Linked DNA regions of Homo sapiens. The main gene of each other region encodes a partner of the protein of the gene in region 2 in a complex. Each region holds a gene or a part of one and is shown on either strand. Other genes may lie near its edges.

The links.
Region 1: GTF2H2 (region 2) and GTF2B share a complex: the UniProt entries of both Homo sapiens proteins name them as parts of the TFIID-containing RNA polymerase II pre-initiation complex.

The regions. Positions count from the first base shown.
Region 1 is NC_000001.11:88,863,669-88,867,593, forward strand, and holds part of GTF2B (transcription initiation factor IIB), read right to left. Parts: intron 447-3,925; coding exon 313-446; intron 1-312. UniProt on the Homo sapiens protein: General transcription factor that plays a role in transcription initiation by RNA polymerase II (Pol II). Involved in the pre-initiation complex (PIC) formation and Pol II recruitment at promoter DNA.
Region 2 is NC_000005.10:71,046,876-71,050,800, forward strand, and holds part of GTF2H2 (general transcription factor IIH subunit 2), read right to left. Parts: intron 2,284-3,925; coding exon 2,193-2,283; intron 1,975-2,192; coding exon 1,887-1,974; intron 1,239-1,886; coding exon 1,131-1,238; intron 1-1,130. UniProt on the Homo sapiens protein: Component of the general transcription and DNA repair factor IIH (TFIIH) core complex, which is involved in general and transcription-coupled nucleotide excision repair (NER) of damaged DNA and, when complexed to CAK, in RNA transcription by RNA polymerase II.

The DNA.
Region 1 (3,925 bases), on a different chromosome or scaffold from region 2:
GATATTCAAAGAACATATCAATATTAACTCATGAAGGCCACACTACACTCATTTTTTGTGTGTACAGAAAATGTCATTTATGAAAAAAGGCCTGATATAAAGGCTTTATAATTTTGATTTAATGGTCTTCCCCACTTTAAGATGGAATACACACACAAGTTAGCCATCATTCACAATGATATTACTGGCAAATCTTATTAGACAGGTCAAGATTCCCCACTGGTGCAGTGACTGATACTTTTGCAAAGTTCCCAAACTCTCAGGTCTATGGTCACTCTGCAATTGGTATTTCCTGCCAAATGGACTTATTACCTTGCCAATCATGGTAGACAAATCTCCATCACTCAGAAGAGGATTCTGAGAATCTCCAACTCGAGATGGATCTTTTGTTGCTTTGTCATTGCTGAAAGTTCGCCATTCAGATCCCACATCAATAACCCGGTCACCTAAGAATATAAGCACATATCTGAATCATTTTGTCAAGATAGGGTTTACTTAACTACACTGTCCAATGCCCAACTAAGCCATTTTATTCCCAGGAAATCTCAACATGGACATCTAGGACCAAGCTTAAATATCACATTTCAGACATTTGTCCTAAAGCATTCCTTTAACTATTGTGCCAATCTAACAATAATCCTCTTGAAACATTATGCTATGATATTCTAACTCTTGGAAGAAAAAGTATTAGTCAAAAGTAGCAAAGTACAGCTATTCATATGTGATGCAAAGGTAAACCAATGTAATAATGATTAAGAACCAGATTTTGCACAAAATTTGCAATAGGCATGGGAAAAAAAGAGAAAACATTTTTTAGAATGGTATTAATGCAAATAATTTCATATTAAAATGTCACTAAGTTTGCGTGGGAAATGCTTCGCAGAAAATAAGCCTAAGCTTCTGTTTCAAAGTAACAATCTGATGAAAAACATACCTGGCCAAATAATTTATACAGAATAAACCTCAAGCCTAGAATCCGTGAGAAGAAAGCCTGGTAGGCAAACTTTTCTCTTTAAGCAAAGAGGCAGCATCTAAATATATCATGTCCAATAAAAGCAGACACAAGTAAACCTTATTATTACTGTTTTGGTGAGAAAGCTCAATGTCTGGCAATACCTTCAGAGTAGACAAAAGTTAACACTGAATACTTAACACATACTACTCACTGTGCCCTTTTGTAAATGTTCTCACTTAATCTTCACAGCCTTATAAAGGTAGGTACCAATTTTATTGCCACTTTACAAATAAGATTAACTAGCCTAAGATCACATAGCTAGAACTGAAACGCACATCAGAGTTTGTTCTACACTCCAATTGTAAAACATGACCTTTTTCAGTGAAGTGTGATGAAGCTGAAAGTAGGAAGGAACCAGACCATTTCATCTTTGTGTATACACAGCAAACAGAAAGAAACAAACGGCAGAAACCAGTTACTGTAGCAATTAGAAGTTACGGTACTAGCAGTCAATTAATATAATAGTCAGGGGTGTGAACTCTGCCCTTTGCTGCTTAGCCTTGGAATATTACTTCATTTCTATGTCTTTATTACCTCAGCTCTAAAATTCTCTTTAACCTCATATTTTAAAGATTATAAAGACTAAGCTATTATAATACCCATGTACAGTGCATGTAAAGTGCTTAAAAAGTAGTACTAAGTGCTCAATATTCACTATTTACTGCTATGAAAATTAGAAAGATAGCAAATATTCTGAGTTTCTCCTTTTTTGTGGGGATGATAAGGGAGACGCATCAGTTTAAAACATTAATCTCCAGCCGGGTGTGGTGGCTCAGGCCTGTAATCCCAGCACTTTGGGAGGCCGAGGCAGGCGGATCACCTGAGGTCAGGAGTTTGAGACCAGCCTGACCAAGATGGAGAAACCCCGTCTCTACTAAAAATACAAAATTAGTTGGTCATGGTGGCACATGCCTGTAATCCCAGCACTTTGCGAGGTCCAGGCGGGCTGTCACCTGGTTGGGAATTTGAGATCAGCCTGACCAACATGGAGAAACCCTGTCTCTACTAAAAATACAAAATAGCTGGGCGTGGTGGCACATGCCTGTAATCCCAGCTACTCAGGAGGCTAAGGCAGGAGAACTGCTTGAACCTGGGAGGTGGAGGCTGTGGTGAACTGAGATCGCAACAAGAGGGTAACAAGAGTGAAACTCCATCTCAAAAAAAAAACAAAACAAAACAAACAAACAAACAAAAATTAATCTCCATAGAAGACTTTAAAAGCTTCCAAGTGCTCCGCTAAGTATTTGATCAGGAGGACAGCAAAGAACAGAGAAAACGGAAGGAATTCCACCTAGACTATGCTAACTTTTTAATTTTTTATATAAAAATTAATTTAAATGCTCATAAACAACCAGAGTATAGTGATCATATAATCTTAGTGATAGATTTAAAAAAAGGCTGGGCATGGTGGTTCACACCTGTAATCTTAGCACTTTGGGAGGCTTAAGCAGGAAAATCACATGAGCCCAGGAGTTCAAGACCAGCCTGGGCAACATGGTGAAACCCTGTCTCTACAAAAAAATACAAAAACAAATTAGCTGGGCGTGGTGGCATGTGCCTGTAGGGAGGCTGAGGTGGGAGGATCACCTGAGCCCAGGAGGTTGAGGCTGCAGGGAGCCATGATTACACCACTGCACTCCAGCCTAGGTGAGGGAGACCCTGTCTAAAGTAAGCAAATGCTCAAGAGAATGATTCATTTCTGAAGCCTCTGACAAAATTTTTCTTTTTTCTTTTCCTTTTTTTCAGACAGGGTCTCACTCTGTTGCCCAGGTTTGAGTACAGTGGTGCAATTTTGGCTCACTGCAGCTTTTGCCTCTGGGGCTCAAGCAATACTTCCACCTTAGCCTCCTGAGCAGCTACAGATATGCACCACCACTGCCTGCCTGGCTAATTTTTGTATTTCTTGTAGAGATGGGGTTTTGCCATGTTGCCCAGGCTAGTCGTGAACCCCTAGGCTCAAGTGATCCACTCACCTCGGCCTCCCCAAGTGCTGGGATTACAGGGGTGGGCCACCATGCACAACAGAAAAACTTTTCTTTAAACAACTGAATCACCAAGGTAAAAGCGGATTATCAGTTGGACTACCATGTGTCCACATTACAAAGGGATTGAGATTAGAGGCAGAGTTCCCATGTGCCATCCCTGTATGCAAGGAGAACACGCAAGGAAGGCAGAAGCAGGACAGTAAGTTAGAAGGCAATTTTAATACATCACACATTGAGCAGGTGGCCCGAAACAAGGAGAAAAGCGTTAGATGGATGGCATTACAAGGATTTATCTGTTTCCTCTTCCTCATAATAAACATCACTAAACTTAGGAAGCAGTTTGAATTATGCAGATTTTAAAAAGATACTTAAAAGTATCATAAATTGTCATTGTGCACTGAAACCTTACCAAACCACTGTGCAGTGAGTACTATTCACCAACAAGCCCATGTCTCAAAGAGATCACACTAAAGAGATCAATTTTTCTTCCTTTTTACAAAATATTTGCTCACTAAAAGATACGTTAGAAAAAAATTACCTGCATTCCCAATACCCAATGACCACTATATTTTCATATATGCTCTGTGTTTTTCGTTCATATGTATGCACCTACGTTTTCCTAAAATTTAGATACTGTGCCTGTTTCATGACAAGCTCTTTTCATTAAATTTATCATAAACACCAGCATGGTATTTTTAGACAGAATTTAGTCCCTTTAATAGCATCCACCAATTAAAGTGATACCATGGTGTTCCCATGCACTTATGTCCAAAGACAGAAAAGACAATCTAACTTTCCTATTTGGCAAAATAAAAACACAAACATGCATAGAACAAAAATAACCGTGGCCTTCAAACCCAGAGTTACTAAATTTTAAGCTAAAAAAAATCAACAAATGTCATCAATAACTTGCAATATTTTTATT
Region 2 (3,925 bases):
TTGAACCTGGGAAGCGGAGGTTGCAGTGTGAGCTGAGATCGCACCACTGCACTTCCAGCCTAGGAAATAGAATGAGACTCCATCTCAAAAAAAAAAAGAAAAAAAAAAGTGATCCAAAACCAATAATTTCCCCTCCTTTGAGCAATTTGGTGTACTTCCCTGCAAGCTTTGTCTTTGCACAGTTTGCATTACACAGCTTTGATCATCCAGTACAGAGAATTTTGTAGCTTATTTTATTTTTATTTTATTTTATTTTTTTGAGACAGAGTCTTGCTCTGTCACCCAGACTGGAGTGCAGTGGCGCAATCTCAGCTCATGGCAACCTCCGCTTCCTGAGTTCAGGCAATTCTCCTGTCTCAACCTCCTGAGTAGCTGGGATTACAGATGTCTGCCACCATGCCCAGCCATTTTTTGGTAATTTTTAGTAGAGACAGGGTTTCGCCATGTTGGCTAGGGTGGTCTCAAACTCCTGACCTCAGGTGATCCGCTAGCCTCGGCCTCCCAAAGTGCTAGGATTACAGGCATGAGCCACCACGCCCGGCCTTTGTAGCTTATTTTAAAAAATTTTTAATATAAGTGTTTTTCTTTTGTTTTCTTTTTTGAGACAGAGTCTCGCTCTGTCGCCCAGGCTAGAGTGCAGTGGTGTGATCTCGGCTCATTTCCAGCTCTGCCTCCCGGGTTCATGCCATTCTCCTGCCTCAGCCTCCCGAGGAGCTGGGATTACAGGCGCCCGCCACCACGCCTGGCTAATTTTTTGTATTTTTAGTAGAGATGGGGTTTCACCGTGTTAGCCAGGATGGTCTCGATCTCCTGACCTCAAGATCCGCCCACCTCGGCCTCCCAAAGTGCTGGGATTACAGGCGTGAGCCACCGAGCCCGGCTTAATATAAGTATTTTTCTATAAACACAGTTTATACCTTTCTAGCCTTAAAAATAAAGAAAGCCAACAGTATTTTCTGGGTGACAGGACTACTGGTAGTTTTAATTTTTTTTTTCCACTTCTCTGTACTTTCCAAAATTGCTTCAACAAGCATATTTTTTCTTTAAAAATTCTTAAATATTAAAATAACTTGTGCAAATGAAAATGGAGAGCCTAGATATGTATTTTTTAAAAACATAAAAACACTTACCCATACGAATAAGTGAGCATTCAGAACTTGAGCTAGCAGGAGGAGGACTAACATGATGTGTGAGCAACTCTTTGTAATGGCTTTCATCTAAAATAACATGGTACGTGCCTAACAAGATGAAAAGGGAAAAAAAAACACCTTCATAGACATAACGAACTGTACGTTCTATGTAATTCTGTAAAAGTTGTATCATCTGAAAATGTACATTTTTAAAATAATGATTTTAGCTAAATTATCACTTTTAAAACCTTATTTAAGTAATATATCTAAATCAACTTCTCTAGGAATAACTATAATTACAATTGATTATTATTACTATTATTATTATTTTAACATATAAATAGAGACAGGTCTCACTATGTTAACCAGACTGATCTCAAACTTCTGGCCTCAAGTGATTCTCCTGCCTTGGCCTACCAAAATGTTGAGATTACAGGCATGAGCTATCATGCCTGGCCTGTAATTACAATTTAATTAAAGACAAGTTATAAAATCTTTATAAAGAATTACATACAGTAAAATTTCCAGCTTTCCAAGAGTTATAATACCTCCTCTAAATACTGACATAAGTACTGAAAACTCTTTGCATTTGGAGATGATTTCTTATGGAATCAATGATATATTTAAGATGACTGCCCATATTTTAGACTACTTTAAGTTTAGTAGCTCAGAACAGATTAAAACATCCTAATTTAATTAATAAATTATTTCCTACACAGTAATTATAAGCAAATATTAAATAAATTATATATATACCACCAGTTTCACGAGCAAGTACAGTGCAAACGCGAACTTCTGCAGACAATCCAATAACAGATACTCTAATTTTAGCTGCCTTTAGGGTCTTCATAAAATCCAAGTAGATAGATAGTTTTAGGAAAGAAGAAAAACATTTAAGATTTAATGTATTTGAAAAATAAAGAATGCTCTGAAAACTAGTAATAAATTCAATACATCTACCACAAAGATGAATCACACATACAAAAATACATATATATATAAATCAATTTGCTACAGAATTCTCTTTACAGTTATAACTTTGGTTTTGATTTTTTGGTCTACCTTGATTAGATCATAAATATTAGATGGATCGCAAGTTGTAAGGCTGCTAAAGATGATTAGTACTTCTCGACTTGTATGTCCAGGCATGTGTCTTAAAAGAAAGATAAAATACACTCCAATTAGGTACAACAAATTATACTACCAAAAAATTTACCCAGAAAGAACAGTAAACATAGGATTACACATTTAGACTATAGAATATCTCATTTGTTTCAACAATGCAAAGAAAGGTTGTGAGTATATTTTAAACACTTTAATGCAAATTTTTCTAAAATGAGCTATGCACTTCAAAAAATTGTTAATTGATTCATTTAATATTTACCAAGTACTCTCAAGTTCTGGGGGTAGAGTGATAAACAAGACTGACAATGTTCCCGACATCATTAAGCTTACATTCTAGTAGGTTTGTTTCATACAAAGTCTAGAGTATACAATAAAAAATACAACAATATATGGATAAACTTTAAACTAAAATGTGGCAATATCATATGGATCAGCTTTAAAGTGCAGAGATGTGGCTTCAAAACAGTAACACACACTTCTTTCTCAAAGACTATAGTAGTCCCCTCTTATCTGCAGAGGATACATTCCAAGACCCCCAGTGGATACCTGAAATCAAGGATAGTACTGAACCCTATATATACAGTCGTTCTTCGGTATCCTTGGGGGATTGATTTCAGGCCCTCCTATGGATACCAAAATCTGCAGATGTTCAAGTCCCAGATACAAAAGGGCGTAGTATTTGCATATAACCTATGTACATCCTCCCATATATTTTAAGTCATCTCTAGATTATTGATAATACCTAATACAATGTATACTATGTAAGTAATTGTTATCCTCTATTATTTAGGGGATAATGGCAAGAAAAAATGTCTATTTGTTCAGTACAGGTACAATTTTTTTCCAAAAATTTTTGATGCGTGGTTGATCGAATTCACAGAAGCAGAACCCAGGATTCAGAGGGCTGATTATACCATGTTTTTCCCTATACAGGCATACCTTGGAGATACTGCAGGGTTGGATTCCAGACCGCAGCAATAAAGCAAATATCACAATAAATATTTGCAATAAAGCAAGTCACATGAACTTTCAGGTTTCCTAGTGTATATAAAAGTTCTGTTTACGGCCAGGGATGGTGACTCACGCCTGTATTCCCAGCACTTTGGGAGGCTGAAGCGGGCACATCACGAGGTCAGGAGATCGAGACCATCCTGGCTAACACGGTGAAACCCCGTCTCTACTAAAAATACAAAAAAATGAGCTGGACGTGGTGGCAGGAGAATGGTGTGAACCCAGGAGGCGGAGCTTACAGTGAGCCAAGATTGCGCCACTGCACTCCAGCCTGGGCGACAGAGCGAGACTCCATCTCAAAAAAAAAAAAAAGAAAGAAAAAGAAAAGTTCTGTTTACACTATACTGTAGTCTAGTAAGTGTGCAACAGCATTATATCTAAAAAAAAAAGTACACACCTTTATGAAAAATACTTTATTGCTAAAAATCGACTGAACTGTCAGTGAATAATATCTTTTTGTTGAAGGAGAGTCTTGCCTTGATATTGATGGCTGCTGACTGATCAGAGTGGTGCTTTCTGAAGGGTGAGGTGGCTATGGCAATTTCTTAAAATAAGACAAAGTAGTTTGTTACATGGGTCAACTCTTCCTTTCATGAAAGGAATGCAAATGCTGTTTGGTAGCATTTTATTCATAGTAGTACCTCTTTCAAAATGGGAGT